Regions from separate parts of the Homo sapiens genome. Here regions 1 and 2 are each linked to region 3. The links come from fine-mapping of genetic effects on gene expression. A gene starts in region 3. Each other region holds a variant in brackets. All regions are shown on one strand. Distances are from middle to middle.

Region 1 (11,083 bases), 30 kb before region 3:
TGCATACCTAATGTGACTTTACAGCCTCTTCTAACTCCGTCTTTCTCCTTCACTGTTACCTATCTTCCCTATGCAGCGAGGGAACTTTTTATGTGCCTAAGATTCCTTTTTTCATGTACTTCTGGTGCTTTGTTTCTATACCTCATAGTTTTTGTATTTAAAATGCTTAATAGACCAGTGTCTTTTTTCTCTGATACATACAGCTTTCCTATGCGATATGTATAATTCAGTTTGAAGACATGTTTTTTCCGAAGCTTCAAGTTGATGTGAGACAAATTAGCACCCTACACGATAAACTATGCAACTATAAAAATTATGGAAATTGCCCATGCCTGTGTCCTGAATGGTAATGCCTAGGTTTTCTTCTAAGGTTCTTATGGTTTTAGGTCTAACGTTTAAGTCTTTAATCCATCTTGAATTAATTTTTGTATAAGGTATAAGGAAGGGATCCAGTTTCAGCTTTCTACATATGGCTAGCCAGTTTTCCCGGCACCATTTATTAAATAGGGAATCCTTTCCCCATTGCTTGTTTTTCTCAGGTTTGTCAAAGATCAGATAGTTGTAGATATGCGACATTATTTCTGGGGGCTCTGTTCTGTTCCATTGATCTGTATCTCTGTTTTGGTACCAGTACCATGCTGCTTTGGTTACTGTAGCCTTGTAGTATAGTTTGAAGTCAGGTAGCGTGATGCCTCCAGCTTTGTTCTTTTGGCTTAGTATTGACTTGGCGATGCGGGCTCTTTTTTGGTTCCATATAAACTTTAAAGTAGTTTTTTCCAATTCTGTGAAGAAAGTCATTGGTAGCTTGATGGGGATGGCATTGAATCTATAAATTACCTTGGGCAGTATGGCCATTTTCACGATATTGATTCTTCCTACCCATGAGCTTGGAATGTTCTTCCATTTCTTTGTATCCTCTTTTATTTCCTTGAGCAGTGGTTTGTAGTTCTCCTTGAAGAGGTCCTTCACATCCCTTGTAAGTTGGATTCCTAGGTATTTTATTCTCTTTGAAGCAATTGTGAATGGGAGTTCACTCATGATTTGGCTCTCCGTTTGTCTGTTATTGGTGTATAAGAATGCTTGTAATTTTTGTACACTGATTTTGTATCCTGAGACTTTGCTGAAGTTGCTTATCAGCTTAAGGAGATTTTGGGCTGAGACAATGGGGTTTTCTAGATATACAATCATGCCATCTGCAAACAGGGACAATTTGACTTCTTCTTTTCCTAATTGAATACCCTTTATTTCCTTCTCCTGCCTAATTGCTCTGGCCAGAACTTCCAACACTATGTTGAATAGGAGTGATGAGAGAGGGCATCCCTGTCTTGTGCCTGTTTTCAAAGGGAATGCTTCCAGTTTTTGCCCATTCAGTATGATATTAGCTGTGGGTTTGTCATAGATAGCTCTTATTATTTTGAGATACTTCCCATCGATACCTAATTTATTGAGAGTTTTTAGCATGAAGGGTTGTTGAATTTTGTCAAAGGCCTTTTCTGCATCTATTGAGATAATCATGTGGTTTTTGTCTTTGGTTCTGTTTATATGCTGGATTACATTTATTGATTTGCATATATTGAACCAGCCTTGCATCCCAGGGATGAAGCCCACTTGATCATGGTGGATAAGCTTTTTGATGTGCTGCCGGATTCGGTTTGCCAGTATTTTATTGAGGATTTTTGCATTAATGTTCATCAAGGATATTGGTCTAAAATTCTCTTTTTTTGGTTGTGTCTCTGCCAGTCTTTGGTATCAGGATGATGCTGGCCTCATAAAATGAGTTAGGGAGGATTTCCTCTTTTTCTATTGATTGGAGTAGTTTCAGAAGGAATGGTACCAGTTTCTCCTTGTACCTCGGGTAGAATTCGGCTGTGAATCCATCTGGTCCTGGACTCTTTTTGGTTGGTAAGCTATTGATTATTGCCAGAATTTCAGAGCCTGTTACTGGTTTATTCAGAGATTCAACTTCTTCCTGGTTTAGTCTTGGGAGGGTGTATGTGTTGAGGAATTTATCCATTTCTTCTAGATTTTCTAGTTTATTTGCGTAGAGGTGTTTGTAGTATTCTCTGATGGTAGTTTGTATTTCTGTGGGATTGGTGGTGATATCCCCTTTATCATTTTTTATTGCATCTATTTGATTCTTCTCTCTTTCCTTCTTTATTAGTCTTGCTAGTGGTCTATCAATTTGGTTGATCCATTCAAAAAACCAGCTCCTAGATTCATTAATTTTTTGAAGGGTTTTTTGTGTCTCTATTTCCTTGAGTTCTCCTCTGATTTTAGTTATTTCTTGCCTTCTGCTAGCTTTTGAATGTGTTTGCTCTTGCTTTTCTAGTTCTTTTAATTGTGATGTTAGGGTGTCAATTTTGGATCTTTCCTGCTTTCTCTTGTGGGCTTTTAGTGCTATCAATTTCCCTCTACACACTGGTTTGAATGTGTCCCAGAGATTCTGGTACGTTGTGTCTTTGTTCTCGTTGGTTCCAAAGAACATCTTTATTTCTGCCTTCATTTCGTTATGTACCCAGTAGTCATTCAGGAGCAGGTTGTTCAGTTTCTATGTAGTTGAGCGGTTTTGAGTGAGTTTCTTAATCCTGAGTTCTAGTTTGATTGCACCGTGGTCTGAGAGACAGTTTGTTATAATTTCTGTTCTTTTACATTTGGCGAGGAGAGCTTTACTTCCAAGTATGTGGTCAATTTTGGAATAGGTTTGGTGTGGTGCTGAAAAAAATGTATATTCTGTTGATTTGGGGTGGAGGGTTCTGTAGATGTCTATTAGGTCCGCTTGGTGCAGAGCTGAGTTCAATTCCTGGTTATCCTTGTTAACTTTCTGTCTCGTTGATCTGTCTAATGTTGACAGTGGGGTGTTAAAGTCTCCCATTATTAATGTGTGGGAGTCTAAGTCTCTTTGTAGGTCACTCAGGACTTGCTTTATGAATCTGGGTGCTCCTGTATTGGGTGCATATATATTTAGGATAGTTAGCTCTTCTTGTTGAATTGATCCCTTTACCATTATGTAATGGCCTTCTTTGTCTCTTTTGATCTTTGTTGGTTGAAAGTCTGTTTTATCAGAGACTAGGATTGCAACCCCTGCCTTTTTTTGTTTTCCATTTGCTTGGTAGATCTTCCTCCATCCTTTTATTTTGAGCCTATGTGTGTCTCTGCACGTGAGATGGGTTTCCTGAATACAGCACACTGATGGGTCTTGACTCTTTATCCAATTTGCCAGTCTGTGTCTTTTAATTGGAGCATTTAGTCCATGTACATTTAAAGTTAATATTGTTATGTGTGAATTTGATCATGTCATTATGATGTTAGCTGGTTATTTTGCTCGTTAGTTGATGCAGTTTCTTCCTAGCCTCGATGGTCTTTACATTTTGGCATGATTTTGCAGCGGCTGGTACCGGTTTTTCCTTTCCATGTTTAGCGCTTCCTTCAGGAGCTCTTTTAGGGCAGGCCTGGTGGTGACAAAATCTCCCAGCATTTGCTTGTCTGTACAGTATTTTATTTCTCCTTCACTTATGAAGCTTAGTTTGGCTGGATATGAAATTCTGGGTTGAAAATTCTTTTCTTTAAGAATGTTGAATATTGGCCCCCACTCTCTTCTGGCTTGTAGAGTTTCTGCTGAGAGAGCTGCTGTTAGTCTGATGGGCTTCCCCTTTGTGGGTAACCCGACCTTTGTCTCTGGCTGCCCTTAACGTTTTTTCCTTCATTTCAACTCTGGTGAATCTGACAATTATGTGTCTTGGAGTTGCTCTTCTCGAGGAGTATCTTTGTGGCATTCTCTGTATTTCCTGAATCTGAATGTTGGCCTGCCTTGCTAGATTGGGGAAGTTCTCCTGGATAATATCCTGCAGAGTGTTTTCCAACTTGGTTCCATTCTCCCCGTCACTTTCAGGTACACCAATCAGACGTAGATTTGGTCTTTTCACATAGTCCCATATTTCTTGGAGGCTTTGTTCATTTCTTTTTATTCTTTTTTCTCTAAACTTCCCTTCTCGCTTCATTTCATTCATTTCATCTTCCATCACTGATACCCTTTCTTCCAGTTGATCGCATCGGCTCCTGAGGCTTCTGCATTCTTCACGTAGTTCTCGAGCCTTGGCTTTCAGCTCCATCAGCTCCTTTAAGCACTCCTCTGTATTGGTTATTCTAGTTATACATTCATCTGAATTTTTTTCATAGTTTTTAACTTCTTTGCCTTTGGTTTGAATTTCCTCCTGTAGCTCGGAGTAGTTTGATCGTCTGAAGCCTTCTTCTCTCACCTCGTCAAAGTCATTCTCTATCCAGCTTTGTTCCGTTGCTGGTGAGGAACTGCGTTCCTTTGGAGGAGGAGAGGTGCTCTGCTTTTTAGAGTTTCCAGTTTTTCTGCTCTGTTTTTTCGCCATCTTTGTGGTTTTATCTACTTTTGGTCTTTGATGATGGTGATGTACAGATGGGTTTTTGGTGTGGATGTCCTTTCTGTTTGTTAGTTTTCCTTCTAACAGAGAGGACCCTCAGCGCAGGTCTGTTGGAGTTTGCTAGAGGTCCACTCCAGACCCTGTTTCCCTGTGTATCAGCAGCGGTGGCTGCAGAAGAGCAGATTTTCATGAACCGCGAATGCTGCTGTCTGATCGTTCCTCTGGAAGTTTTGTCTCAGAGGAGTACCCGGCCGTGTGAGTTGTCAGTCTGCCCCTACTGGGGGGGTGCCTCCCAGTTAGGCTGCTCGGGGGTCAGGGGTCAGGGGTCAGGGACCCACTTGAGGAGGCAGTCTGCCTGTTCTCAGATCTCCAGCTGCGTGCTGGGAGAACCACTGCTCTCTTCAAAGCTGTCAGACAGGGACATTTAAGTCTGCAGAGGTTACTGCTGTCTTTTTGTTTGTCTGTGCCCTGCCCCCAGAGGTGGAGCCTACGGAGGCAGGCAGGCCTCTTTGAGCTGTGGTGGTCTCCACCCGGTTCGAGTTTCCCGCCTGCTTTGTTTACCTAAGCAAGCCCGGGCAATGGCAGGCGCCCCTCCCCCAGCCTTGCTGCTGCCTTGCAGTTTGATCTCAGACTGCTGTGCTAGCAGTCAACGAGACTCTGTGGGTGTTGGACCCTCTGAGCCACGTGCGGGATATAATCTCCTGGTGTGCCGTTTTTTAAGCCCGTCAGGAAAGCGCAGTATTAGGGTGGGAGTGACCCGATTTTCCAGGTGCCGTCTGTCACCCCTTTCTTTGACTAGGAAAGGGAACTCCCTGACCCCTTGCACTTCCTGAGTGAGGCAATGCCTCGCCCTGCTTCAGCTCGCGCTCGGTGCGCTGCACCCACTGTCCTGCGCCCACTGTCTGGCACTCCCTAGTGAGATGAACCCAGTACCTCAGATGGAAATGCAGAAATCACCCATCTTCTGCGTCGCTCACGCTGGGAGCTGTAGACCAGAGCTGTTCGTATTTGGCCATCTTGGCTGCCTCTCCAGCCAAAAGCAATGGCAACAAAAGCCAAAATTGACAAATGGGATCTAATTCAACTAAAGAGCTTCTGCACAGCAAAAGAAACTACCATCAGAGTGACCAGGCAACCTACAAAATGGGAGAAAATTTTCACAACCTACACATCTGACAAAGGGCAAATATCCAGAATCTACAATGAACTCAAACAAATTTATGAGAAAAAAACAAAGAACCCCATCAAAAAGTGGGCAAAGGACTTGAACAGACACTTCTCAAAAGAAGACATTTATGCAGCCAAAAAACACATGAAAAAATGCTCACCGTCAGTGGCCATCAGAGAAATGCAAATCAAAACCACAATGAGATACCATCTCACACCAGTTAGAATGGCAATCATTAAAAAGTCAGGAAACAACAGCTGCTGGAGAGGATGTGGAGAAATAGGAACACTTTTACACCGTTGGTGGGACTGTAAACTAGTTCAACCATTGTGGAAGTCAGTGTGGCGAGTCCTCAGGGATGTAGAACTAGAAATACCATTTGATCCAGCCATCCCATTACTGGGTATATACCCAAAGGACTATAAATCATGCTGCTATAAAGACACATGCACACGTA[T/C]GTTTATTGCGGCACTATTCACAATAGCAAAGACTTGGAACCAACCCAAATGTCCAACAATGATAGACTGGATTAAGAAAATGTGGCACATATCCACCATGGAATACTATGCAGCCATAAAAAATGATGAGTTCATGTCCTTTGTAGGGACATGGATGAAATTGGAAATCATCATTCTCAGTAAACTATCGCAAGAACAAAAAACCAAACACTGCATATTCTCACTCATAGGTGGGAATTGAACAATGAGAACACATGGACACAGGAAGGGGAACATCACACTCTGGGGACTGTTGTGGGGTGGGGAGAGGGGGGAGGGATAGCATTAGGAGATATACCTAATGCTAAATGACGAGTTAATGGGTGCAGCACACCAGCATGGCACATGTATACATATGTAACTAACCTGCACATTGTGCAGAAGTACCCTAAAACTTAAAGTATAAAAAAATTATGGAAATTATTTTCCAAAATGAAATTTATTGGTATAATTGCTCAAATTTTCATCTGTTTAATATACAGTGAAGTCATCATTTTCTTTTCTCATCTATTTTCTTGGTTTACTTTCCAGTTCTAATAATTATAGCTTGCCTTCTGTTACATCATTTTAAAAATATTTAATAACAAAGCTATGGTTTATAAAGTTTTCACTTGTATCGTTTTCCTTTTTATTTCTTTTTTTGGATTAACTACTTGTACGCCTTAGAATAAAATATATAGAAGAAACTTACCTAAATATTTCTCAAAGGCCTTATGTTCAATTATCTTTTATTTTAGCATCATGATTCCATTAAGTGTTCTTATCAATTACCTAGGTTGTTTTCTGTATTCTTTATATTGACATGCCCACCACACGCCCACGTTTTTAAGCAAAGCTGCCTTCATTGTATTATCTGTATTCTTCCTTAGAATGGTCTTCTTTCGAAATTACTTAGTACTTGATAGTATCTTTTTCTGAAAATTTCCAGGCTTCAAAAATGCTCTTCCCTATGATGTTCTAGAACACTTTAAATCTCAGTATTTCAGTATTTAAAACTCTAGATTTCCTTGATGAACAAAATTGAACATTTTATTGGTGCTAACTTGTGGCCAAACTACACTTTGCCAGTTCTCTGATTCCCTGGCATCTGCTAACACTTACCACTGTCATTACTGTCTTTTTGCTGCTGCTGTTACACCTAGAATTTCTGATAATAAATTATTAAGAGTCAGTAAACCCCTGGATAAAAGCAAAAGGGACTGATTTTAATGGTCTTTTGGTGGTCAGAGACTTAGCAAAAGTCATGTCTGTTTTATAGAAGAGTAGTATCCAAATTTTTTGATTAGATACCCTGATGAGTAACAAATTTTTTGAGTGTGTAGCCTTAAAAATATGTATATATATTTATTCACAAATTTTACAAGTTCTACTATATAAAAGCATATTGTACATTATGAAACACACCAAAAAATAGAAATCTTAAAAGGGTGAGATAAAAAGTTATTAATAGAAATTTAAGTATTTTCTTTCTATATCTTAGTGGTTTGTTTTCTCTGTGCCCTAGGATGTATGAACCTGATTTGGAGACCACTTTGTTGAGAGGCTAAGATTAAACAGGCAGGGGATGTAGAATGTTACTAAGTTGGTCCCTTGAAGTAAGTATCTGTTACTTTAAGTGGTACTTTCTCAAAAAATTGTTGGGAAATTTTCATACTTACAGAAAGATTGGAAGAGTGATAACACTGAACATCTAATTACTATTCATCTAGATTTGCTAATCATTAAAAATTTGCCACGTTTGTTTTATCTCGTGTATGTTTATATATGCACGTGTGTGTGTGTATACATATATATATATAGGAGTGTTCTTATGTATATACACACATACTTTATTGTGTGAACTGACACATTATAAACATTGTAAACCATATTTCTAAGTTCTTCATCTTACGTCTTGTAAGGATTTGGACAGTTTCCCACATAACCTAAACCATTTTCACATCTAAGAAAATTAACAGTAATTCTGTAATATATTGTTATTGAATGTCCCTCAAACTGTCTTTTATAGATATGTATATATTTTAAATCCAGGATCCATTCCAGGAATATATACCCACACTTCTAATGTCCTTTGATTCTCTACTAATCTGGGTTAATCTTGTCATCTCCCCCTGATGCTCCACGACATTGACTTTTTAAACACCCCTGCCAGTTGTATCGTAGAATTTCTTACGTTCTGGATTTCTGACTTGATGCTCTATTCTCTTTGCCTCTACTGTAGTACTTATTCCTAAAAGAATTACGTCAGAACCAGATGAGTTCTGGTTAGAGGTAATCAGATTAGATTTTTCAGGCTTGCATCGGAAGCTGCACACATAAAGGAACGTTGTTAACCCTAACATGTAGCTGCTCTGTGATAGCCTGTATCCTCAAGCCATTGATGCTGCCGTAGCTCAGTACACTTTTATGTTCTTCATCTTGAATTGCATTCAGAGAAGCTGCAGAAAATTTGTGCCCTTTCCCCATTCAAACCCTACTCAGCTTTTCTCCATTTGTTCAATACCCACCTTATTCACTCTGGATGGCTTTTAGGTAACTCTAGAAATGTAACCAGCAAATAGAGTTCTATGTTTTTAGATGCAAACATTTTGGCACGTTTGTTTTGAAAGACTTCTCATGACCCTAGTCATAACCTTCTGTTAAAATAGGGAAATCACTGAAGGGGAGGGAAAGCCCTTTCTTTTTAAAAGTTATCATTGTTACTTATTTTCCTCAAGTTGGTAACTAAATTGGAAGCAGACTGAATAAAATATATAAACACAGTCAATTTTGAAACACATGCACATTACAGTAACATATGCCGTCAGCTTATTAAAGAACTAGTTTGGGACTTGTTTCAGTTGGTTAATGGCATTTAAAAAGTAGAATAAATGTTTGTAATCAGTTGTTTCTATGGCAGGATACATCAAGTTTCTTAACTGCAGGGTGATCACATTATCTTGTTACTTTAGAAAAAGATATGCTGTATAAACAGTTAAGAATGTTTTCGGTTAATTATAGGTGATATTGTCTGTTAGCCAGGTAAGATGCAAAATAGGAAAATTTACGTGAGACATCCATGTATGGTTATTTTTCTCTGAACCAAAAATGGAAAAAAAATCTGTTTACTGTTTCAGAATTTGTTTCTATTTCTCCAGAGAAAAGAAGGGTTTGATATAAGTATCTTTGATATTCTGTAATTTAAAAACATAATACCCTGTAAAGGAGTGGCTGAAAATGACTGAAGAAGTTGTAATCAGGAATACAGGTAAATTCACTTAGAGGAACCATTATAACAAGTTCATTTCTATAAAAGGTGGATGGCTCATGAAAAAATGGTTTCATTAATTTGTATTGTAAATGTATCATACTTTTGTGAGTACGTGGATTTCTTTTAAAGAAAGGGGTGGATAGTGGTGATGGTATTTGGGGTTGAAGATAAGAATAAGAACTAAATTAAGTTGTAGGAATTTACTTGTCCATTCTGCTATTAAGTGGAAATTTCAGCTCATGGCTGTAGGAATTCAGAGAACTAGACTTTAATCCAGGTATATCTTTTGTCAAAAGAATATCTTGGTAGATATGTGATTTGGGGCAGCTCCATGTATCTTTCTGGGTCGTCTACTTATTTATGCATTGTAAGGCTAATGTAACATGATCTTTTGTAGCTTGTATAAATTTTCTGTTTCATATCATCTACCTCTGCCTACCTTAACTATCCCTGCCATTCAGCCTGAATAGTTCACCTATGTCACTGAATGGACCTGGGTACCATGGTACTGAAACTTGGGTGCATGATTTCTAGCATGTAGTTATAGCAGTGTACTTTCTGAACGTAACCTGGGGGTACTTTATCTCCATTCGTATCTGGTGAGCCTTTTGTTCTGAGTGATTTTATCAGGAACATCTGCATTCCAAGTAGAAGCGCTTCAGCCATAGTACTTTAACTTTCATTGGTGTTGATTTGAAAACAGAAAAATAAATAGTTGTAACTCTGGGACAGATACTGTATTTGTATACTGCTTCAAACTAAAGGAGGTAAGTAGCATCAGACTACATGAAATTTTATTCTTGATGTTCTTGTATGCAAAGTGGCATCTTGGTCTTGGTGAACTGAAAATGTTAATGTCACCAGTATACTACACTTGCCGTTCTTTAGCTGTTGTATTGCTGAGATGCTAGAGTACTATGGAAACTAGTAGTTTCCATCTTTTGTGCTGGCTAAAATTGTCTACCAAGTAAGGTGCAAAACCAGCAGTGATTTTTTTTTTTTTTGCATCACAAATATTTGGCCTAGAAAAATGCCATTATATACTGCTTAGTTACAAGTTATTAATATAAATAAGTATTAAAGTAGACATTAAATTCAAGGAAGGTTGTTTTTTTTTTTAAAATCGGCTTTTTTCTTGTGTTGTCAGTTAAATTTATCTATTATTTTATATAGTTTTATAAAACAATTCCACAAATAAAGAATACTTGTTTTTAGTTTTCCTATTTGCACTTTAGAAGATTAGATACCATGCTGGCATCTAAAAAGCTTTCCTTAAAGTTTATATTATTTAATGGAATCTGATGAAGAAGTTGGGGCTTACTTCAAGTACTAAGTAAACTGGATAAGGCTTTTATACTTGTTGAGGGGGAAAGACAAACTTTTCCGGTTGTTTATCAGATTTGTGTGTTGTCTCCCTTTGTAAACAGGTACCTTTTAAAATCTTTTTTGCTATTTTTTGCTAATGTTTTGTAAGAATGGTCACAGAAAGGAATATTGGTCGGGCTCTACCAAAAAACAAGAAAAAAAGAATTCTTATAGTAAATACCAATTCTGTGATTATACAATTAATGCCTTTTTCTTTATTTTAAAAACAGCCACTTAGATTCTAATAGATTTTAGTGAAGTATTTTAATATCAAAACATCAGAACAGTCTCATTTCATTCAGCTGGTTGCTGAATGTTAATTTACATGGGGTGTAGGGGCAGACAGTCAAGTGGATTCTCTTCAGGTTAAGTTAAATAAGCATTCGATGTGGAAAGACCTAGTGGCTAGAAT
Region 2 (11,083 bases), 86 kb before region 3:
TCCTTTGTCAGATTTGCAACATTCCACCTAATGAATCAGTTAGGTGGAATTGAAAAGAAATTTTTTCTTTCTGTTGAAAGATTAGGGGAATAGAATCTTAAACTTTTTGGCATGTATTACAGAGCTTTCCAAACAGTACAGTAATTGGATTAATTGGTGTGGATATGGGTGATTTCTTCAGCTCCTGGGCTAACAGCATTAGCCTTTAGCAGTTTCATTTACTGCTTTATGCCACACAAATGGTATTGTCTTATTTGTGCACTTTCATGTGAAAAAGATTAGGAAGCACTGCTGCATTACACTTGATATTTGCAGTGGTAATATGAAGCCTTTGCCAGTGTCTTCTTTGCCTCTTCTTCCTTCACCCCTAAATATAGATGTTCCTGAAACTTTCCCTGATTCATTTTTTATTTCTAAGATTTTTTCTTTTGGTCTCACAACTTCCAGCTGTCTTTATGTAGATGGCATCTGTATTTGCAGCTCTTCTTACTCAAGCACTAGTCTTATGGACACTGCATTATTTCTGGATATCGTTCTATATAAGCCTTCATCTCACCATCTAGAAACCAGAACTCCTGTCTCTTTTTGTTTTAAACCTACTTTCTTTCAGTTTTTCCATTTCTATTAATGACAAGATGATTCTTTCATTGCACTAAAACTTGAGTCACCTTCACATTTATTACTCAATTCTGTCCATCTGCCTTCATAATCTCTCAAAATGTTGACGTTTTAAAGTCTCCTTAATCAAGTTTTTGAGCATAGCCAAATGGTGCAGAGGCAGTTTTCTTCAGGGGCTGTATACCCTCCACTCTAGCTTTTTTTGGCCCATAATGTCCTCCCACTATGACGTTCCCAAAGAATCTCCCAAATGTGGTCCCATCCATCCCTTTGTTGTATTTACATTTTAGTATATTCTGACCTGGTTCATTAATTTAATTGAAAATTTTTAACTACTGTGTGTTACATATCGCGTTCCCTTTTCTCCATTTTTATTTGTCCTACTTTACTTTGGACGTTCCTTACCTTGCCTAGGCTAGCGAATTAACCCACTGGCATTTTTTTTCTGTTTCCATCTCTTTTCTAATTCTTATATCCAGTTGCCGTATAACAGCTGTGTTCATGTTACTCCCCTACCTTCCATACTGAGTTCAGTTTAAGCTCCTTAGTCTTCTGAATCATGCATTTTCATTTTTTTCCCTCCTGTATAACATTCATTTCAGCTCAACTATCTGAGTTCCAGTGCTTTTTTTCTACCTTAGTTTGATGCTTTTGGTCCTTTTGTTTCTTGAGGATGGAATGTTTTCCTCTTTAATTTCCCATCTCTGTGTCTCATATCCTTTCAGACCCAATGTAGATACCACTTCTTCCACAAAGCCTTTCCTTATCCCCTTTACTGACAATGGTATGATCCTCTGAATCCTCAAAGCACTCTATCAAAACTATTCTTATTTGTGTTTTTTCCTGCATTTTAGTAACTTATATCTAATGAACTGAAGTTTCTTAGATATAAACCTAGTAGATTTGTAGAATGAATGGTCCATGAACTTCTGTTGCACATGGGAAAGAAGCAAATAGCTTAGTGGTGGAGATCATGTACTCTAGAGGGAGAATGCCTGGGTTCAAATCTTGGCTCTAGCCATTTAGCTATGTCATACTGGGTAAGTAACTTATCTTTCTGGGCCTTACTTTTCCAGTTTACCACCTAAGAATAATAATAGTATCATCTTCATAGGGGAGTTGTTGTGACTTTGAGATTAGCTTTATCAAGTGTTTATAACAGTACCTGGCACATGGCTGAATGAGTGCAACTCTGCCTGCTTTTGATTGAAGTCATATTTTGTGACAGTTTCTGTTGAAGACTGGGCACCAAGCTAGACCACTTCATGTGCATTTTGGAGATAAAAGTTTTATCTAGCATTGCAGCTGCAAAGCCCCTCCTCTCTCTCTTCACTTTGTTGGTTTCCTTTTTATCTTTACTTCGGTGTTTTTCATTTTGTAGACGCTTTCTGTAATAATTGGGTCAATTGCTTGAAGTTGTTTGTCAAAAGGCAAACCCCCTTTTACAACTATAAATATTCCATGTTTTTCCAGTTAAAAAATCAATTTGTAATGCATCTGAAATTCTGTATGTTGTAGCACAAAGCTGTAGAGATCAATTTGTTTTTCTTAATGTTAACGTTATTCTCCCAGAAATGTTTATTATTATTTTCCCTATTTTATTTCCTTTCATATTTGAAATTTACTAATTTATAGCTTTAAAAATATTTTTTGTCTTTTTGTTTTTATCCAGTATCAATAGGTTTAGACACATGCTCATTTTTTTTAGTTTTTCATATTTATTTTTAAACTACATACTTTCTCTCAGTATATTCCTTAATATTTGAATTGTCAGTTGGGGATTTTAATTGACATTATACTAAGTCTATGAGTTTACTTAGGAAATATTTTCAACTTCAGTGAATTCGATAATGAAGGTGGATCTGTTTGTTCTTTTAGTCAGTGTTTTTTCCTTTTCTTCTTCCTTCCCTCCTTTTTCTTCTTTTTTCTTCCCACTTACTCACTTAGTTTTGACTCCTTTAATAGTTATTGCTCTCTGGTTCTTTTAAATCCCCATTAAGTTAATCTTCAAGCATTTATTGTGTGCATAAATGGGATATCTTGTTATACCTCTTGTTAATAAAGAGTTGTTTGAAAAGGATTAAACAATAATTGAGATACCATTCTAATATTATTGAGGTTTTAAAAAAATGTCAGGCCTTCAATAATTGCTCATGTATGTATTTTCTTTCAATAATACTGTTTAACATACATCTCCAGTTGTGTTTTTTCTTTCTTGTTCTCCCTTGATAATCTCATATTAGGAAATGGTAAACATAAGGGTCATATTAGGACATTCCTGGGCCCTAGGCACTTTTGTCTTCTTGGGCTCCTCTTTCTATTAAAAAAATTAAAAATATTTTATGACTACATTGTTTTAAGGAAAAATATATTAGTATTATATATTAAAACATTTTCTTTGAAGCAAAAGTTCACTTTTTTCTTCTTGTTTTAAAAGAAATAAAACATTTACGTGTACTTCCAAAATTATT[G/T]TGAGTCCTAGGCCCTGTGCCTACATGCATAAGCGTTTACAGAATTGGGTTACATATTCACAGATCAACTTAGTAATAGAAAATTTTAGGTTTCTTTCAGGTGAGCACTAAACTGTGGGATACTTATGGTGGCATTCCTAATATGTTATTTGTTTTTATTTTTGTGGTAAATTATATATACAATAAAATTAACTATTTTAAAGTGTTCACTTTAGTAGGATTAAGTATACTCACATGCCCGCTGTCTGTCTCCAGAACTTATCCATCATCCCAAACTGAAACCCTGTGCCCATTAAACAATAACTCATCCCCCTTTCCTCCAGCTCCTCTTAAACATTTGTAGTTTGCCTTTAATATTTTAAATTATTTTATAATTAGTATATATGGACAACTTATAGAAATCTGGTTTATGTTTTGGAGGAAACTGTGATTGGATATGGGTTGCTGATGGTCGCATAAGAATGTTGAACAGTATTGTAGGCTGCCATTGAGGTATTCTAAATACCTGATGTGCTTTAGAGAAGACTATAACATGTAAGTGGGTTGAGAGGGAAAAGAGGACATGAGTTTTCCAAAGACAAATTCAGGTAGAGTCTTTTGAAGTAGAGGAATGTTGTAGATTGGAATGCAGTTCAGAAGTGATTTGTGTTTCAGGCAACAATCTAGATTTAGAAAAAAAATTATTATTGCTATTTGGTGTTAGCCTGAAATTTTGTAAAGTGCGGCGATCTTTTTAAGAGGACAGATTCAGAGATGGTGGAAGGACTTTAGGAGGAGCATTTCACTTTCAGTAATATTGTATTTTTTAAATCAAAATGATTTGTAACTAGTAATATATAGTAGAATCATTTAGAGGATAAATAAAATGAAATAATTCATATTATTTTAACCTTTTTTTCTCTTTTGGCTTCTTTTTTTAAAGTCATCTGTCTTAGAATTATGGTAGTTTGAAAAATATTCTTAGGTTTTAAAGGGGGAGAAAAGAGCTATTATTGTGAAGTTTCATTTAGTCAGAACTGTGACCAGGAAACATGGCTCTCAGTGGTGTTGTGAAAAATTTTTCTTAATTCCTTCTCTTAAAAAGGAAAAAACCAGACAAACCCATTTTCTGTTCTTTAAACTCACATATACATATGCATATGCATATATATTTATGTTTGTTGATTATATAAAGTATTTATTTCTTTTAAAAATAAGTATGTATTCACATGGCTCAAATGTTAAAACAATTTAAAAAGATGGACATTGACAAGTCTAATTCCTATCCCTGTTTCGCTGCTCTCATCTTCTATAAGTTACCACTTACGTAAATTTTGTATCTTTCCATTCTTTTACACAAATGTGAATACATTTTCCCCCCATTTACATGTAATAAGAATGTTGTATATATTCTTCTGCATTTATTACTTAATTACTTATCGTTACTTATTGACTACTTATTGTATCCTGTCAGTCTTAGAAATGTATTTCTTTTAAGTCTATTAGTATTGGACAAATTTGGAAATTATTTTCTAGTTTAACATTAATTTTGGTTAGTGGCATGTAGAATATCTAACACATATACATAATTACTGAATGAAAATTAGTAATTTTTAGTAATTATCTCAATTTCAGAAAGCCTACTAGATGTAATCCCTGTTTACTTCATTTAAGTTGTAGTTTCTTTTTAAATCTTGAAATACTTGATTATACCAAACCTAAAACTTTAACAAACATTCTGAAATTTTTTTCTAACGTCTCAAGATATTCACATGATTTCTACTGCGCAATTTCCAGTGTGTGAGTAACTAGTGAAGAATGCCCAGCCAATTAGGTCATATGATGGGCTGAACAGCCTTCATTTGTTTAGAAATCAAGAGAACTTTCACAATGATAATAGCCGTTTTCTTTAACATGTCTTCACATAAATAATTTTTCTATGTTAGTGTTGATTGATTTGTTTATATTTATGTAAACATAGACGTGAGGATAAATACTGATTATCTTCAATAACAAGTTAAAATTAAAGTTCTGTAATTGACCTCTAGATTAAGTTTTGCTGTTATTTTATATGTTAACTGTCTTTGCTTAGCTTTAGCCAAAGATATAGTTGACTAAAGGTGGAAAACATCATGTAACTTTTTCTTTACCCGACTAATGGATATGTTTTGGTACTAAATTTATTCTAACAGAATGAGAAAGATCATATGATAGTCATTATTGGTGTTTTGTGAAAAATACAAATGTAAGCCTTTGGGAAGGAGTTTGTTAAAAATGTTTTTCCTTGGCTTTGTATTTTTTTTTTTTTTTTTTTTTTTTTGAGACAGAGTCTTGCTTTGTTGCTCAGGCTGGAGTGCAGTGGCACGATCTTGGCTCACTGCAAGCTCCGCCTGCCGGGTTCACCCCATTCTCCCGCCTCAGCCTCCTGAGTAGCTGGGACTACAGGCACCCGCCACCATGCCCAGCTAATTTTTTTTTGTATTTTTAGTAGAGACGGGGTTTCACCGTGTTAGCCAGGATGGTCTCGATATCCTGACCTTGTGATCTGCCCGCCTTGGCCTCCCAAAGCGCTGGGATTACAGGCATGAGCCACCCTGCCTGGCCTTTGGCTTTGTATTGTTTTGTCCTGGACTGGACTGTGACTATTTCCGGCCTTCAGTAGGAAGTTGAAAGAATATTTCCTGATTTTTGTAAGGGAAAAATAATCTCTGAGCTGGATATTCTAGAGTTGAAAGGACAGCATCAGTAGAGAAACAGACCTCTTTCAAGTCTTTTTTTCTTCCTATAATCATATCCTCATTTTACAGGACTTTATCATCAAAGTCTTTTAAATGCTCTTTTAAGAATAATCGTCACTTATTGACTACTTATTGTTTGCTAGACTCTGTTACAGTGCCCTATGAACATTTTGTTTGATTATCACAGCAGTTCTAGGTACTGTAGATTCTCTCAACTTTCAAGTGAGAAATCTAATTGATATTTAGGATTCTTTTATATAACTTAAAATAGCGGAAGTGTTCCAGCAGAGTTAAATAATTTTTTTTTTTTTTTGAGACAGAGTTTCACTTTTGTTGCCCAGGCTGGAGTGCGATGGTGCGATCTCAGCTCACTGCAACTTCTGCCTCCCAAGTTCAAGCGATTCTCCTGTCTCAGTCTCCTAAGTAGCTGGGATTACAGGTGAACGCCACCATGCCCGGCTATTTTGTATTTTTAGTAGACATGGGGTTTCAACGTATTGGTCAGGTGGCCTTGAACCCCTCACCTTGTGATCTGCCCTCCTCAGCCTCCCAAAGTGCTGGTATTACAGGCGTGAGCCACCGCATCCAGCCCATAGAATTTTTTTTTTAAAACGTGATCTTGATTTCCATGTTTCACTCAGTTTCGTAACATGGCAGAATTTCTTTAATTCGTTTCATTCTCTTTGCGTTCGTCATTTTTTCTTTTATTTGTCAAATACTGAATGCCAAATATCATGCTTTGGCTATACAGTGGTGAATAAAGCAGGCATAGCCTTTGCCGTCAATGGTGCTAATATTCTAATGGTGGAAGATGTGAAATAAACAGATACTAACAGATGATGGTCAATAGCTAAGAAGCTAGTAACCAGAGTGCTATAATGGAAAATAAAAAGGTAGACTGGTATGAGGGGGTTACGTTTATGCTATAATTTTAATGTTGAAAAGAGACAGAGTTCAAAGCACTGCATCCCAGAAAGAAGCAATAGTCTGTAGGTGAATGCTGAATGCTACAAGGTAGAGAAAACTTGATGCCTTCTAAGAACTTGAAAGTTACAGAGTAGCTGGAGCAGAAGTCAGTTGCCCTGAATGAGCGCAGAGCTGGGTTTCAGAGTGAGTTAGAAAAATAGAAGATGATGGTTGGAAGGTAGGATCCTTTAAATTAAAACTATAGAGGGTTTTCAGTTATTGGTAATGACAAGGTCTGATGACTCCAAGGTCCATCGGAGTTAATAAGATGTGATAGAAGTTGAAAAGCCAAAGTGTTGAAAGCATCACTTACACTGTTATTAAAAGCTCCAAGAATTAGGACAGGAGTGATGTTGGAGAGAGAGGCAGTGATCCAGTAGCTAAAATAATTGACAGGTGAAGGGGCATTTGAGATTTTTAAATAAACTGCAACATGAGGGGACTGACGTGATTGGAGCTGGGCAGTTTTAGGAAAGAGGGAGAGTGGTTTGGAAGAGGCAAGGGAAATGAATGCACATTGCTTAGCATAATGCATATTGAACAGATAGTACAGAGGTCAACTCCGACACAATTTCCCCAATTATTCACATATTTCATTAGTGTATATATTTGTTACAAGATATGAACCAATATTGATACATTACTATTAACTAAAGTCCATAGTTTGCATTAAGGTACACTTTGTTTTGTACAGGTCAATGGGTTTTGACAGTGTATATAATGACATGTGTCTACCATTGTGTAATGCCACGTATCTGTCATTACAGTACCATGCTGAATAGTTTTATCACCTTAAAATGACCTGTGCTCCATCTGTTCATTCCTTTCCTTCCTCTCTTTGCACTTTAAACAGCCACTGATCTTTTTACTGTTTACAAGTTTATCTTTTCCAAATGTTGTGTAATTGGGATCGTAGACTATATAGCCTTTTCAGACTGGCATCTTTCACTTACCAGTATGCATTTAAGGTTCCTACGTGCCTTTTCGTGGCTCAGTAGTTCATTTCTTCTTATTGCTGAATACTCTTCCATTATATGGATGTTCTACAGTTTGTTTATTAACCTACTGAAGGACATCTTGTTGGCTCCCAGTTTTGGTGATTTTTAATAAAGCTGCTATAAACATGAATTTGCAGCCTTTTGTGTTGACATCGTTTTAAGTTCAGTTGGGTAAATATGTGAGAACATGATTGCTAGATCATATGGTAAGACTGTTTATCTTTGTTAGAAGCCACCAGACTGTCCCCACAGTCTCAGTATGGTTTTGTTTTTTACATTCAAGTCTTTGATCTATTTGGAATTTATCCTGTTAGGCAGTATGAAGTATGGTTCTAACTTTATTCTTTTCTATTTGGCTACCAAATATCCCAACACCATTTACTGAATCGTCCATCTTTTTTTCTTCTGATTTGAAATATTTCTTTTATATATTATATTTGCATATGTATTTAAGTCTGTTTTTCTCTTTTGACCCGTTGGTATGTGTCTAAACACATTCTGCTACCACATGGTTTTAATTATTAATATGTTTTGACATTTGGTAGGATATGGTCTTGAGGTTTTTTTTTTTTTTTCCGGAAATGTTGTTTTAGATATTCTTTCCCCTTCCTACTCTCATTAAATAAACTTTCAAATTGAGTTGGCTGGGTTAAAAACAAAACTTTCTGTTTAAATTGGCCTAGTTTTAAATTAACAAATTTATGTCTTTATGATATTAAATCTTCCTATCCGAGAACATAGCATCTCTTTTTGTTTATAACCTTTAGTAGTGTTTTTAAGTTTTCCTCTTAAAAGTCTTGTACATTTTTTGTAATGTTTCGTCTGAGGTATTTTGTCCTTTTTGCTGCTGTTTCAGTGGGGTTTTTCTTTCACTGATTGGGAATTTCCCTTCTTTTTCTTTCTTTCTTTTTTTTTTTTTCTGAGATGGAGTCTCGCTCTGTCACCCAGGCTGTAGTGCAGTGGCGCAATCTCAGCTCACCGCAAATGCCGCCTCCCAGGTTCACACCGTTCTCCTGCCTCAGCCTCCCCAGTAGCTGGGACTACAGGCACCCGCCCCTATGCCCTATGCCCGGCCAATTCTTTTCTTTTCTTTTTTTTTTTTTTTTTTTGTATTTTTAGTAGACACGTGGTTTCACCATGTTAGCCAGGATGGTCTCGATCTCCTGACTTCGTGATCCGCCCATCTCGGCCTCCCAAAGTGCTGGGATCACAGGCGTGAGCCACTGCGCCCAGCTGGGAATTTCCCTTCTTAAAGGGTAGACGGGATTATAGCATCTGTGTATCTGGAAGAGAATGATGCACTTTGAGGGGGAAATTGAGATGATGATTCAGGAGAGAATTGGGATAACAACAGAAGTCAAGTTGTTGACTAGGCAATAGGGAATGGGATCCGATGCGAGCTGATTTTTCTATCTTTACTTGCCTAGACAATGATTTTACTTTTTTATTTTACTAAGTCTTAAAAACATCGTATATTTTATAGAATGAGACTTATAGAATTCTGATGACTGTTGTGCTTGTTTTGCAGATGAGAAAACTAAAGCCCTGAGATTTTTAATGTGACTTGTCTAAAACGAGTGAGCAGAGGCAAAATTAGAAGTCAGATTTCTTTACTTCCCATTTTATGTTTTTTTCTACCTTCACTGTGCTGTGTGCTTAGGTGCTTGTATGAGCAGTTATATTTGAAGGTTAAAATTATGAATCAAGACATACCAATCTTACATTAAAGTTTTTGGTGATTCCTCTCTCCCCATACGTTATGTTACATTGTGTTTTGTTTGACTGAAATATACCTTAGTGTTACATGGTCTAGAAAACTCAAAATATCATCGTACTGAATTTAATCCTCAATATTTTAGTTCAGCATGTAGAAGTTTAGTTTATCTGCTTTTCTAATGAAGTCCTTTGGGACTTACATGAACATGTTTGTTAAATAATAGTCAAATAACATCACTGTATATATTTATATTCACGTTCCATTATCTCATAAGAAATGCCTACTTAATAAGCTTAACATTAAGGGAATAATTTGATATTTGTACTCTATATTTTGCTCCTTTTATATGTTGTGTGGATTATGTTTTATGTAATGTATGTTACAAATCAAATTTGCATTTTGAATATGTTCAGTATATAAAGATTGCATTATTTCTGTTGTGATTTCTTTTGTACTTTTATATTAGAATTCTCTTACAGTCTGTGACATGCCTTCATGCTTATGAAAGGCATCTAAATAAGGCTCTACTCAGTATTCAAGGAGCATTCATATTATCTCTTAATTTCTAAAAATATTTAGTTCATTCAGCAAAGATTTGAGTTCCCATGTCTTTTAGCTGCTGTGTGTCTGCTAGGTCCTGGTATACTAAGACCTATAAAAGCTATGCATGCACATACTCCTCCTTCCTCCAATATAGACGTACATATGTCCTTGAATGGTAAACCACAGTAAAGCTTTTTTTGTAGCATTTTAGATGAAGATGTAATGTTTAAATCACTCTAAAATAACTTTGAAAGCTACAGTTGTAAAAGCAAAGATAAAAAATGAAACATTTTTGTGCTTTCAAGAACTAACATTGTTGAGAGTCTCTAAATCCCTGGCATGAGTCTAGGAGTTTTGTATTAACATTCTGATAAGGAGGTATTAGACATCTCCTCTTTTACAGATGAGGTCTGTCAAAGCTTCAAATCGTTTTTCTACTGTATCACAATGCTTCTTTTGTTTAGTAATGGTTTTCAGCCTGGGTGGTATTGCTCCATTAGGGATGGTTTCAGGTGTCCCATGACAGGCGGGTTACTACTGATGTTACTGATGTAGTAACTAGCAGGGATCAGGGATGCAACATGCCAGATAGTCTTTCACTAGTGTCCTTGTACGTTTTTAGTCTGACATAGGTTATTAGAGGTTAACCATGCAAACATATTTGTTAACCATGTTTTTTATTATTGCTATTGATAATTTTTGTTTTGATCATTTTTCTTTTATATTTGCAATACTTTTAGGCAAATACCCTGTTATTTTGTTATGTCCTGAGAGAGGGATAATGAAGAGGTGATATCCTCATTTTGAAAAGTTGATTGGTCTAAAAATCATTTATTAATTTAGTAATATATACAGGAATTAGAATTTAAATTTACTGTCTTTTCAATGACAATAATTTCCTTTAGAGTATACAATCTTCCTGTCACTGCTCGGCATATGGTTTTTATGATACTAAAAAGTACTTTTCAACTGAGATATAGAGCTATTTGAAATAGGAGAATTTTCAAAAGTTTTATACAGCATAGGATGTCACAAATCTTGACTCCTTTTTCC
Region 3 (11,083 bases):
TAAATTTTTAATTTTTTTTTTTTTTTTTTTGGTAAAGACAGGGTCTTGCCATGTTGCCCAGGCTTGTCTGAGACTCTTGGCCTCAAGCAATCCTCTCACCTTGGCCTCCCAAAATACTGGGATTGCAGTATTTCACTGCACCCAGCCAGAACAATTTTTCAAAGGAAATATTATTACACTATACAGAGAAAATTGCTGTAGCAATATACAGCTACCGCTTTGAGTCAACAGAAAGACTGATACAAAGCTTACCTCCTCTGAGAAGGCTTCTCTGATAAACTGTGAGTTTTTTCCATCCTTTCCCCTGTATTTTCTGGTAATTTTCCATGGGGTTTCTGAATGGTATTTGGCCTCTGCTCATAAACACACTCCTTTGTCTTATTCTCAAGCCCTTTCTCTAGCAAAGAAGAAAGACCACCTTTTGTAAGGGCACATGTGAGCTGGAAAGTTCAACAACTCAGACACCTGTAAAGACTGGTCTTTCTTGGCATGCTTGCTTCTCCCTGTTGATCTGTCCTAGCCTTCTCACTCCCAGGTTCCTTGCTCAACTCACTCTTCTATTCCCTCCCCGCCTGGCTTCTATTTGTTCATTCATCAGATAGAATTGACAACATGCCAGGAGTGGAGGTTCCAGCCCGTAGAGTTTGGCTTGCTCTAATTCTGACTCAAACTCATGACCTTCTTTAGCTCCACTTACCAAATTCTCCCCATGTTTCTGAGTTCAAATTCCTAAGGGTGAGAATCCGATTGACCTGGTTTGTGCCAGGCTACACATAGATGGCTGGACACTCTATGGCCCAGGACCCATTCATTCAAGAAGATGTGGCTGAAGAAGGGAGATGGACTGTGGGCAGGTCACCCTTCCCAGTCCTAACTCGCCCAGAGTACTTACTCCACCAGTGTCCTCGGGTCTTTGCGGGGCACTTGTGTTATCTCCCTAAGCAGAACGTGAGTTAACAGGGACTGCCGTGATCTGCACGCAGGAAGTGTTCAAAGGACAATGCGAACACATGCAACTGTTTCTTTACATGGAGTTGGACTTGTGGCAGGCAGAAAGTGAGAATCACAGCCTTCCTCCTAAAGAAACCACAGCCAGTGACCAGGGCATTCCAGGAGGTAGAAAACACTGGTCACAGGTCACGTCACATGAGTGCTAACACTCATGGGGTAATCTTGTAAAGGTGACCGGAAGCAGTGGCTCACACCTGTAATCCCAGCACTTTGGGAGGCCGAGGTGGGTGGATCACTTGAGGCCAGGAGTTCGAGACCACCCTGGCCAATAGGATGAAACCTCGTCTCTACTAAAAATACAAAAATTAGCCAGGTGTGGTGATGGGTGCTTGTAATCCCAGCTATTAGGGAGGCTGAGGCAGGAGAATCGTTTGAACCCAGGAGACAGAGGTTGCAGTGAGCTGAGATTGCACCACTGCACTCCAACCTGGGAGACAGAGCGAGACTCTGTCTCAAAAAATTAAAAAAATAAAGGTGGAGGAAGATTATGAATCAGAGGAATGTTACAGGCGGGAAATAGAAAGCTAGTGCCAGTTTTAAATTCTCATAAATGGAAATAAAAATTGAGCATTCAAAATGGAATTTTAGGCCTGGGTAAGAGACTTCTTTCTCCAGAGTCAAGCTATTCAATAACTCTCTTCAAATGCTCAATAATTCTTATTCATACACAAAATTTGTAGCAGAAATTATGATTCAACAGAGTGCTAGTGACTCAAGATGGACTGTTAGGAGGTTAAAATATAATTCATATCCAGTATCATTTAAATAGGCATTTTCATCAGGGATGATACTGACAATTGATGTCAGTGATAAGTTATTAGAAGTAGTTGACAACTGGGTGCAGTGGCTCACACCTGTAATCCCAGCACTTTGGAGGCCGAGGTGGGTGGATCACCTGAGGTCAGGAGTTCGAGACCAGCCTGGGCAACATAGCAAAACCCTGTCTCTACTAAAAATACAAAAATTAGCCGGGCATGCTGGCGCATGTCTGTAGTCCCAGGTACTCGGGAGGTTGAGTCAGAAGAATCGCTTGAACCCGGGAGGTGGAGGTTGCAGTGAGCTGAGATTGTGCCATTGCACTCCAGCCTGGGTGACAGAGTGAGACTCCGCTTCAAAAAAAAAAAAAAAAAAGTAGTCGACGACAGAACCGCTGCTCAGATGGGCCTCCACCCCATCCTTTCATATTTTATCATTGTTCCTCTCAGTCTCTTCTTTGGCTTGAAAGAACTTCTGCTAAACTTCAATGGATTCAAAATCCAAGTTCAAATAACATAACTAGATGGCTTGAAGAACCTGCTGACTAATTGTCTGGCAGTGGGAGGGCAGAAGGCATCAATCCTCAGGGCCACACCAGGAGCCTCCGATGCACCCTGGAAGTCCAGCAGCGCAGGGCCCCTTCTGCCGGGGGCCTTGAGAGAGAGAAGCCTAGAGAAATACAGGTCTGCATCAGTGTGACAGCAGGTACAGGGAAAGCCACAGAAGGGACGGGGCTCAATGTCTGCTGCTGCGTCGCCTCCCTCATCACTCCCGCTCCATTTGTGTTGGCCAGGGGGCTCTTACCTCTAGCCCAGGCTCCTCTCTGGTTCCCAGCTGTACTCCTGCCTCCAGGGTAACACTGCTCTGTCCTTCCTCCACATCAGCATTGAACCTCCTTTCCAGATGACCAAAGGACTGCTGTGTTCAGAAAACCTTGCTTTTTCACTGCCGGCTACACACCCCCACCAAATCCTTAATGGGACACGCCATTCTTACCTCAACCTATTTTGTTGTTGTTGTTTTGAGATAGGGTCTCGCTCTGTTGCTCAGGCTGGAGTGCTGTGGCACGATCACAGATCACTGCAGCCTCAACCTCCCAGGCTCAAGCAATCCTCCCACCTCAGCCTCTGGAGTAACTGAGACCACAGGCAAGCGACACCGTGCCTGGCTAATTTTTGTATTTTTTGTAAAGAAGAGGTTTCACCATGTTGCCCAGGCTGGTCTCAAACTCCTGGCCTCCTCAAGCTATCAACCCACCTTGACCTCCTAAAGTGCTGGGGTTACAGGTATGAGCCACCCCACCTGGCCCCCAAACTATTTTTCTAACATTGCCTCCTCCTGTTTCCTGCTGTGCCACACCAGATTTTCACTAACCCCTGCAGCCTCCTTGGCTGTGTCTGAAATGTCACCGACACCACAGTGCCCCCGTCCATCCTGACCGTGCTTATGTGCCCATCCTCTTCCCACAACCCCAAGGTGAAGCAAGGTGAAGTTCACCTGTGTCCCTGTAGCACTTCATTTACACTCTTCTGGCCTTGGTTTTTTGTTGTGGTTCCTCATTTTATCTCCTCCATTGGACCTCAAGCACTTTCAGAACAGGAACTGCTGTCATTCATTCATCTTCACACCCTAACACATACTAAAATGCTCATTGTAAGTGCTCTAGTATGTTTTTCTTTTCTTTTTTTTTTTTTTTTTTTTGAGAAGGTGTCTTGCTCTGTTGCCTAGGCTGGAGTGCAGTGGCATGATCTCAGCTCACTGCAACCTCAGCCTCCTTGGTTGAAGTGATTCTTCTGCCTTAGCCTCCCAAGTAGCTGGATTACAGGCATGTGCCACCACGCCCCTCTAATTTTTGCTTTTTTTTTTTTTTTTTGAGACGGAGTTTCGCTCTTGTTGCCCAGGCTAGATTGTAATGGTGCAATCTCGGTTCACTGCAACCTCCGCACCTCCCAGATTCAAGCGATTCTCGTGCCTCAGCCTCCCAAGTAGCTGGGATTACAGGCATGCACCACCACACCCGTCTAATTTTGTATTTTTTTCGTTTTTTGTGCAGATGGGGTTTCACCATGTTGGTCAGGCTGATCTTGAACTCCTGACCTCAGGTGATCTGCCTGCTTCAGCCTCCCAAAGTGCTGGGATTACGGGTGTGGGCCACCGTGCCTGGCCTTAATTTTTGTATTTTTTAGTAGAGACGAGGTTTCACCATGTTGGCCAGGCTGGTCTCGAACTCCTGACCTCAGGTGATCTGCCCGCTTCAGCCTCCCAAAGTGCTGGGATTACAGGTGTGAGCCACCATGCCCGGTCTCAAGTATGTTTTTCAAAGGAAGGATATTCATGGAGACAATTGTCATTCTTTAAACATTTGATATGCATTTGAGCTAGTCACAGATAGCTGTTAATGTGTAAATCTTGATAACAGGCTTCTAATGTCACCATTTCAGTTTCCTGTGCAGCAAAACAAAAATAACATTAATTTGTGTTATATGGCAACTAATGCACAATAATGAATAAATATCTTAAGTATTAGGGAGAATCCTGGTTAGAGAGTTGATAAAGTGAATACAAACTCCCTTTTCAAGCACTTGAAAGGGAGGGATGGTTTTCCAAGATGAAGACTTAGGTTTGAGTATCTCCCTTTGCCTGAATTTGCTTTTATGTAAAAATAGAGGGTTGGATTCTATCTATTCCCCTTTAACTCTAAAATTATATTATTCCAGCAGTTTTACTTAACAAGAATTGACTATCACACAAATGGTTTTGTGCTAACGTTAGCAATAAACACCTTTTTAAAACCCTGCTTTTACCCATGCTCCCGGGCATGCTCTAAAGTTCATTTGACTTCTAATAATGGATGTGCAAATATGTTGAGTGATCACTTCCACAATGGTCCTGTTCCTTTAAGAGACCACGGTTGTTAAGTTAGGAGATCATTGAACCATATGAGGGTCAATAAAAGAATAAAAAGTCACTGGTTAGCGATTCGAGGACAAGGAACTTGATCCCAGTTCAGTGTCTGTGGGTCCATATGCTGCCCACAGTCAAAGAGGGAGTCCCAGGTTCTTGGCAGCTTGCTTTTCCTCAGGATGGCTTCTGGAAGGCTCATTAAGTTCGTGGTTTTTGAGCTCCTAGAGTTTGCCGCTTTCTCCATCCCCACACTCGTGATCACAGAACAGTTTGCCACCGCCTACCAAGGAACAAGGGCTAGATCTGACAACACACACTACTGGCTGATCATCTCCTGTTCTATTGCCTATGTTGCGTTAGTGACTCTACTGATCTGGGTTCCTGTAAAAGTTATCCTGCACAAGAAACGTTATATTTACAGAAAAATTAAAGGATGGTAAGTAAAAGAATTTTCTTTTTTTTCTTTTTGATTTGGAGTCTCGCTCTGTCACCCAGGCTGGAGTGCAGTAGGGCAGTCTTGGCTCACTGCAACGTCCGCCTCCTGGGTTCAAGTGATTCTCCTGCCTCAGCCTCCTGAGTAGCTGGGATTACAGTCGCACACCACCACACCTGGCTTATTTTTGCATTTTTAGTAGAGACGGGTTTTTGCCATGTTGGCCAGGCTAGTCTTGAACTCCTGACCTCAAGTGATCTGCCTGCCTCAGCCTCCCAAAGTACTAGGATTACAGGCAGAAGCCACAATGCCCGGCCTGTAGAAGAATTCTTTAGTAGGGAATCCCCATGATGCTGTCAAAGATACGTTTGTTTGTTTGTTTTTTTGTTTGTTGTTTGTTTTAACTTTAAAGTTCAGGGGTAAAAGCGCAGGTTTGTTACATAAGTTAACTTGTGTCATTAGGGGTTTGTTGTACAGATTATTTCACCGGCATGCACCACCATGCCCAGCTAAGTTTTGTACTTTTAGTAGAGACGGGGTTTTCATGTTAGCCAGGCTGGTCCCGAGCTCCTGACCTCAAATGATCCACCCATCTTGGCCTCCCAAAGTGCTAGGATTACAGGAGTGAGCCAACACGCCCAGCCTGTAAAAGAATTCCTTAGCAGGGAATCCCCGTGATGCTTTCAAAGATATATTTGTTTGTTTGTCTGTTGTTTGACTTTTAACTTTTAAGTGCAGGTTTGTTACATAGGTTAACTTGTGTCATGGGGATTTGTCGTACAGATTATTTCATCACCCAGGTATTAAGCCTAGTACCTATTAGTTGTTTTTCCTGATCCTCTCCCTCCCACCGTTCACCCTCTGGAAGGCCCCGGTGTGTGTTGTTCCCCTCTGTGTGTGCATGTGTTCTCATCATTTAGCTCCCACTTATAAATGAGAACATGTGGGATTTGGTTTTCTGTTCCTGCGTTAGTTTGCTAAAAGTAATGGCCTCCAGCTCCATCCATGTCCCTGCAAAGGACATGATCTTGTTCTTTTTCATGATTGCATAGCATTCGATAAAGTATATATGCCACATTTTCTTTATCCATTCTATCACTGATGGGCATTTAGGTTGGTTTCCTGTCTTTGCCATTGTGAATAGTACTGCAACGAACATACGGGTGCATGTGTCTGTATAATAGAATGATTTATATTCCTTTGGGTATATACCCAGTATTGAAATTGCTGAGTCGAATGGTATTTCTGTCTTTAGGTCTTTGAGGAATCACCACACTGTCTTCCACAATGGTTAAACTAATTTAGACTCCCACTAACAGTGTATAAGTATTCCTGAAAGATATGTTCTAACATACTGTGGGTAAGGATGTGAGCAGAGCGTAAGGATAGAATGTGACATTAATGGGAGGCTACAATTACTGCTTCTGTGAATGTATGGATATTATGGTATCTTCCTTAATTTTTCTACAGTCATTTATACTGAGTGATAATAACACATGAGATGGGTTAGTAAGACTGGAGTTTGTGCCAGTTCATGCTATTCTAAGTAGTAAATGTTGGACTTAATTCTCCTGGACACTAAATTACATAAACTTATCGGAGTGAGCTTACACAACTCATAATCAGAAGATGGTAATGTAGAATTTTAATTTTGCGTAAAACTGAAAGTAATGTCTATTTTTAATTATTTACATTGCATTTTGCAGGCTTACGTCATACTTTGACCATTAACTACGACTTTTAAAACAACTGGTTCCTTTAGACTTTTTATTTACTTATTTTTTATTTTGAGACTGGGTGTGGCTCTGTTGCCCAGGTTGGAGTGCAGTGGCGTGATCATTGCTCACAGCAGCCTCAACCTCCCCAGGGGGCTCAGGTGATCCTCCTACCTCGACCTCCTGAGTAGCTGGGACTACAGGTGCACACCACCACACCCGGCTACTTTTTTTGTGTTTTTTATAAAGATGAGGTTTTGCCACATTGCTCAGGCTGGTTCCAAACTCCTGGGCTCAAACAATCCACCCGTCTTGGCCTCCCAAAGTGCTGAGATTACAGGCGTGAGCTGCCAAAGCTGGCCTACTTAGACTTTAAAAATAAATAATTTACTGTGTTGGTAAATTCTGTTACCCTTGTAGGGGAGGAAAGTACTTCAATAACAATACAGAGATATTTTAAATAAATCAGGATTTAATGTTAATTTAACTAGCAGTTTAGCTAATGGGTATACTGATCCACATAAGGGTATTGAGAACAAATAGTCTCTGATATTAATGTATTTTTCCTTTTAGATCTTCAGATCTGATTCTTACTCATCTTGGACTTCTCTCTTTTCTTTAATAAGTTAATATAAGCTAATTTTTCTTTCATACTGATGTTTTATTTATTTATTTATTTATTTATTTATTTGAGACAGAGTTTCACTCTTATTGTCCAGGCTGGAGTGCAGTGGCACGATCTCAGCTCACTGCAACTTCCGCCTCCTGGGTTCAAGCAATTATCCTGCCTCAGCCTCCTGAGTTGCTGGGATTACAGGGTCCTGCCACCACTCCCGGCTAATGTTTTTTTTTTTTTTTGTATTTTTAATAGAGACAGGGTTTCTTCATGTTGGCCATGCTGGTCTTGAATTCCTGACCTCAGGTGATCTGCCTGCCTCGGCCTCCCAAAGTGCTGGGATTATAGGCATAAGCCACTGCTCCCGGCCGATGTTTTATTTTGAAAGCGAATGACATAGAACACATGTGAAAAGTGAGGCACTGGGAATTTGCACATCCACGCAAGGGCAGAAATGTAAAAATAATAGACTCTGCAATAGAGCTAGAAATACCATTGCTGAGGTTGGGAGGATGCTGATGGAGAGCTGACATGTGAAGTTCATGGTGCTGTCTTTAGGTACCGATCCCAGATGTGGCTACTTCTGCGAACCTTGCCAGGAGACTTTCATTTTCCCGAAAGCAGGGGTCTTAAGGGGTTTCTGGAAATAAAGCATTATGTTGTTGGCACTGCTTTTATCAGTAGGGTTTAGGGGCTTTCCAAACCTTGACCAGAGCCCCAGGGTCACCTAAGGGGTAGCTTGGAGCTGGGCTTGACCCTCCACCTCTCACACCCTGTAGGGGTGGCTTTGACTGTCCAAGATTCCTGGCTGGGTTGGAATTTTGAGGGAATGGTGGAAGGTTCAAATGACAACAGGAATAAACCAATGGGAAACTGGCCCACCACAGCCCAGGAAGAAGCTCTTGGGTTTTTTTGTATTTTGGTTTTTTGTTTTCACATTGACTCAAATCCCTAAGACTCTAGATTCTGAATGTCATTTAGGCAGCAAACCTTCCCATATAACTTACTGTTATTATTATTAGGCTATAATTGATTCTTTATAGATCACTGATTATGTGCCATGTAAGTACTGATATGAGGTGGTACAGAAACACGTACTTCATAGGCCAGGCACAGTGGCTTACACCTTTAATCCCAACACTTTGGGAGGCCAAGGTGGGAGGATTGATTGAAGCCCAGAGTTAGAGATCAGCCTGGGCAACATAGTGAGACCTCGTCTCTACAAAACATTACAAAATCAGCAGGATGTGGTGGTGCACGCCTGTAGTCCCAGCTATTCAAGAGGTTGGCTTGAGCCCAGGAGTTTGAGCCTGCAGTGATCTATGATTGTGCCACTGCACTCTAGCCTGGGTGACAGATGGAGACCCCCAACTCTGAAAAACAAAAAGACAGAGAAATATCTACTTCACCTCATAAAGTATTTTTTTTCTTTTTGAGATGGAGTCTAGCTCTGTTGCCCAGGCTGGAGTGCAGAGGAGCGATCTAGGCTCCCTGTACCTCTGCCTCCCAGGTTCACACGATTCTCTTGCCTCAGCCTCCTGAGTAGTGGGGATTACAGTTGTGCACGACCACACCCGACTAATTTTTGTATTTTTAGTAGAGATGGATTTTCCCCATGTTGGCCAGGCTGGTCTCGAACTCCTGACCTCAAGTGATCTGCCCGCCTCAGCCTCCCAAAGTGCTGGGATTACGGGCATGAACCACTGTGCCCAGCCTAAAGTAGAATTTTTATGAGTTTATCGTTATTATTGCCTAGAGAAAATTGCCGATTAGAGAGTTTCAGCAGCTCTCCCAAAGTCAGTGAACTAGACAGAGTGGAAGAGGCAGACTTTGGACCTAGGTCTACCTGACTCCATAATGGGTACTTCTAGCCACTGTCCCAAACTGCCTCTTTGAAGGACAAGGTCCCATTCTCCTGGGGCAATTGAGAGTTAAGGAACAGAGTAGGCTTTTGTTTCTGCCCCTTAGTGCATGTGGTATACCAGTCATCTCTGGTGTCTGTTCAGATTTCATGTTGTGCATCTGGCTCAGGTACCTCCCCTGTGCTAAAGTGTTTCGGGTTGTCATGACTACATCTCTCAGTGATTTCTTTTGGGAAATACACTTCCAGTCTTTAGTTTCTGTTTTGCCGGTGTTGCTGGCCACACGTGTTTTAAATAGTGTTTAGACAGTGGACAGGTTATCTGTAATTTCAGTGAAACTGAAACTGTTTCCTTCTGGCCACATTCGTGAGCATTATCATATAGTTATCTTTTACTGGCATAGAAGAGAAGCAGCCACTGAGCACTGTTCTAGGAGCTTTACACCTTCTGTACTGTTAAGTTTAAACTTTACAACAACTCAGCGAAGTGTACATGCTAAAGTTCTCATTTTATAGACAAAGAAACTGAAACTTGAAGTAATTAACTTTGTCAACTGATAAAGCTAGCAAGTGGAGCCAGGCATGGTAGCTCCTGCCTGTAATCCCAAGACTTTGAGAGGCTTAGGTGTGAGGATCGCTTGAGCACAGGAGTTCAAGACCAGCCTAGGCAACGTAGTGAGACCCTGTCTCTACAAAAAAATTAAAAAATTAGCCAGGCATGGTGGTACGTGACTGTAGTCTCAGCTGCTCTGGGAGCTAAAGGGGGACGATCACTTGAGCCCTGGAGATCAAGGCTGCAGTGTGTTGAGATCATGCCACTGCACTCTAGCCTGGGTCACACAGCAAAACCCTGTCTCAAAAAAAAAAAAAAAAGCTATGTAATGGGGGAGCTAGGATTTGTGAGCCTAGGTCTGTCTGATTCCATACAATTTCCTGTATCTCATACAATTTTCTTTTCCTTTATTTTTTCTGACTTTGAATGCCAGGTGTGTTTCAAGAAAAATGCAATGCTTTTTTTGTTTATTTGTTTTGTTTTGTGTTTTTTGAGATGAAGTCTTACTCTGTTGCCCAGGCTAGAATGCAGTGGCATGATATCCGCTCACTGCAACCTCCACCTCTGGGGTTTAAGCTATTGTCTCATCTCAGCCTCCTGAGTAGCTGGGATTACAGGTGTGCGCCACCACGCCTGGCTAATTTTTTTATTTTTAGTAGAGGCACAGTTTCACCATATTGGCCAGGCTAGTCTCCAACTCCTGACCTCAAGTGATCCGCCCACTTTGGTCTCCCAAAGTGCTGGGATTACAGGCGTAAGCCACCAGGTGCAGCCAGAAAAATGCAGTGCTTTTAATGTCATTAACATAATTTCACCCAGAGTGCATTTGGCTCTTATAATATATGGGGTAATATATAGGGTGTCATGTCTTGATTGCTACATGAAGATGATGCAAAAATAATTGCTACTAGACAAAGTAAGGATTGAGCATATGAATTATTTTTGAGGAATAGTCAAATAGTTGTTTATGTGAAATTTCATAGACCCTGAACATTCATGATTTGATGTTGATGAGGCTTATCTGAGAGCTTCCCTGAAGGTCCAGGCTGGTGTCATGAGCCCTGTGAGGCTGGTCTTCAGGAGAGAGTGAGTCATCAGTCAGTAAATGGTGTGCCCCAGGAATATATGTAAAGGAAAACTGGCCTGGATTCAAATCCTAGCCTTGACATTGACCATGAAACCTTATGTGAGTTATTTGAATTCTTTGAGCCTTAATTTTTTCGTGAGCAAAACA

Direction of the effects. Alleles are on the strand shown, and positions count from the first base shown. SD is a standard deviation of normalised expression in the study named. Not every link is listed here.
As copies of C replace T in region 1, the expression in neutrophils of the gene that starts at base 4,756 in region 3 goes down (moderate effect, 0.67 SD a copy in BLUEPRINT).

The links.
Region 1: its variant is fine-mapped to the expression of TMEM236 in neutrophils (BLUEPRINT, PIP 0.95).
Region 2: its variant is fine-mapped to the expression of TMEM236 in whole blood (TOPMed, PIP above 0.99).

Annotation. Positions count from the first base shown.
Region 1 is chr10:17,717,556-17,728,638 of GRCh38, forward strand. No RefSeq gene overlaps it. Among named protein-coding and RNA genes, the nearest start is that of TMEM236, 29 kb to the right of the region's middle. The variant T/C (reference allele first, on the strand shown) is at 6,017.
Region 2 is chr10:17,661,025-17,672,107 of GRCh38, forward strand. All of the region lies in intron 2 of STAM (signal transducing adaptor molecule), which reads left to right. Among named protein-coding and RNA genes, the nearest start is that of STAM, 22 kb to the left of the region's middle. RefSeq lists an enhancer at 10,065-10,819. The variant G/T (reference allele first, on the strand shown) is at 3,090.
Region 3 is chr10:17,747,446-17,758,528 of GRCh38, forward strand. TMEM236 (transmembrane protein 236) reads left to right here and starts at 4,756. Exons shown (of 4, transcript NM_001098844.3): 1 at 4,756-5,107. The coding sequence starts at 4,851.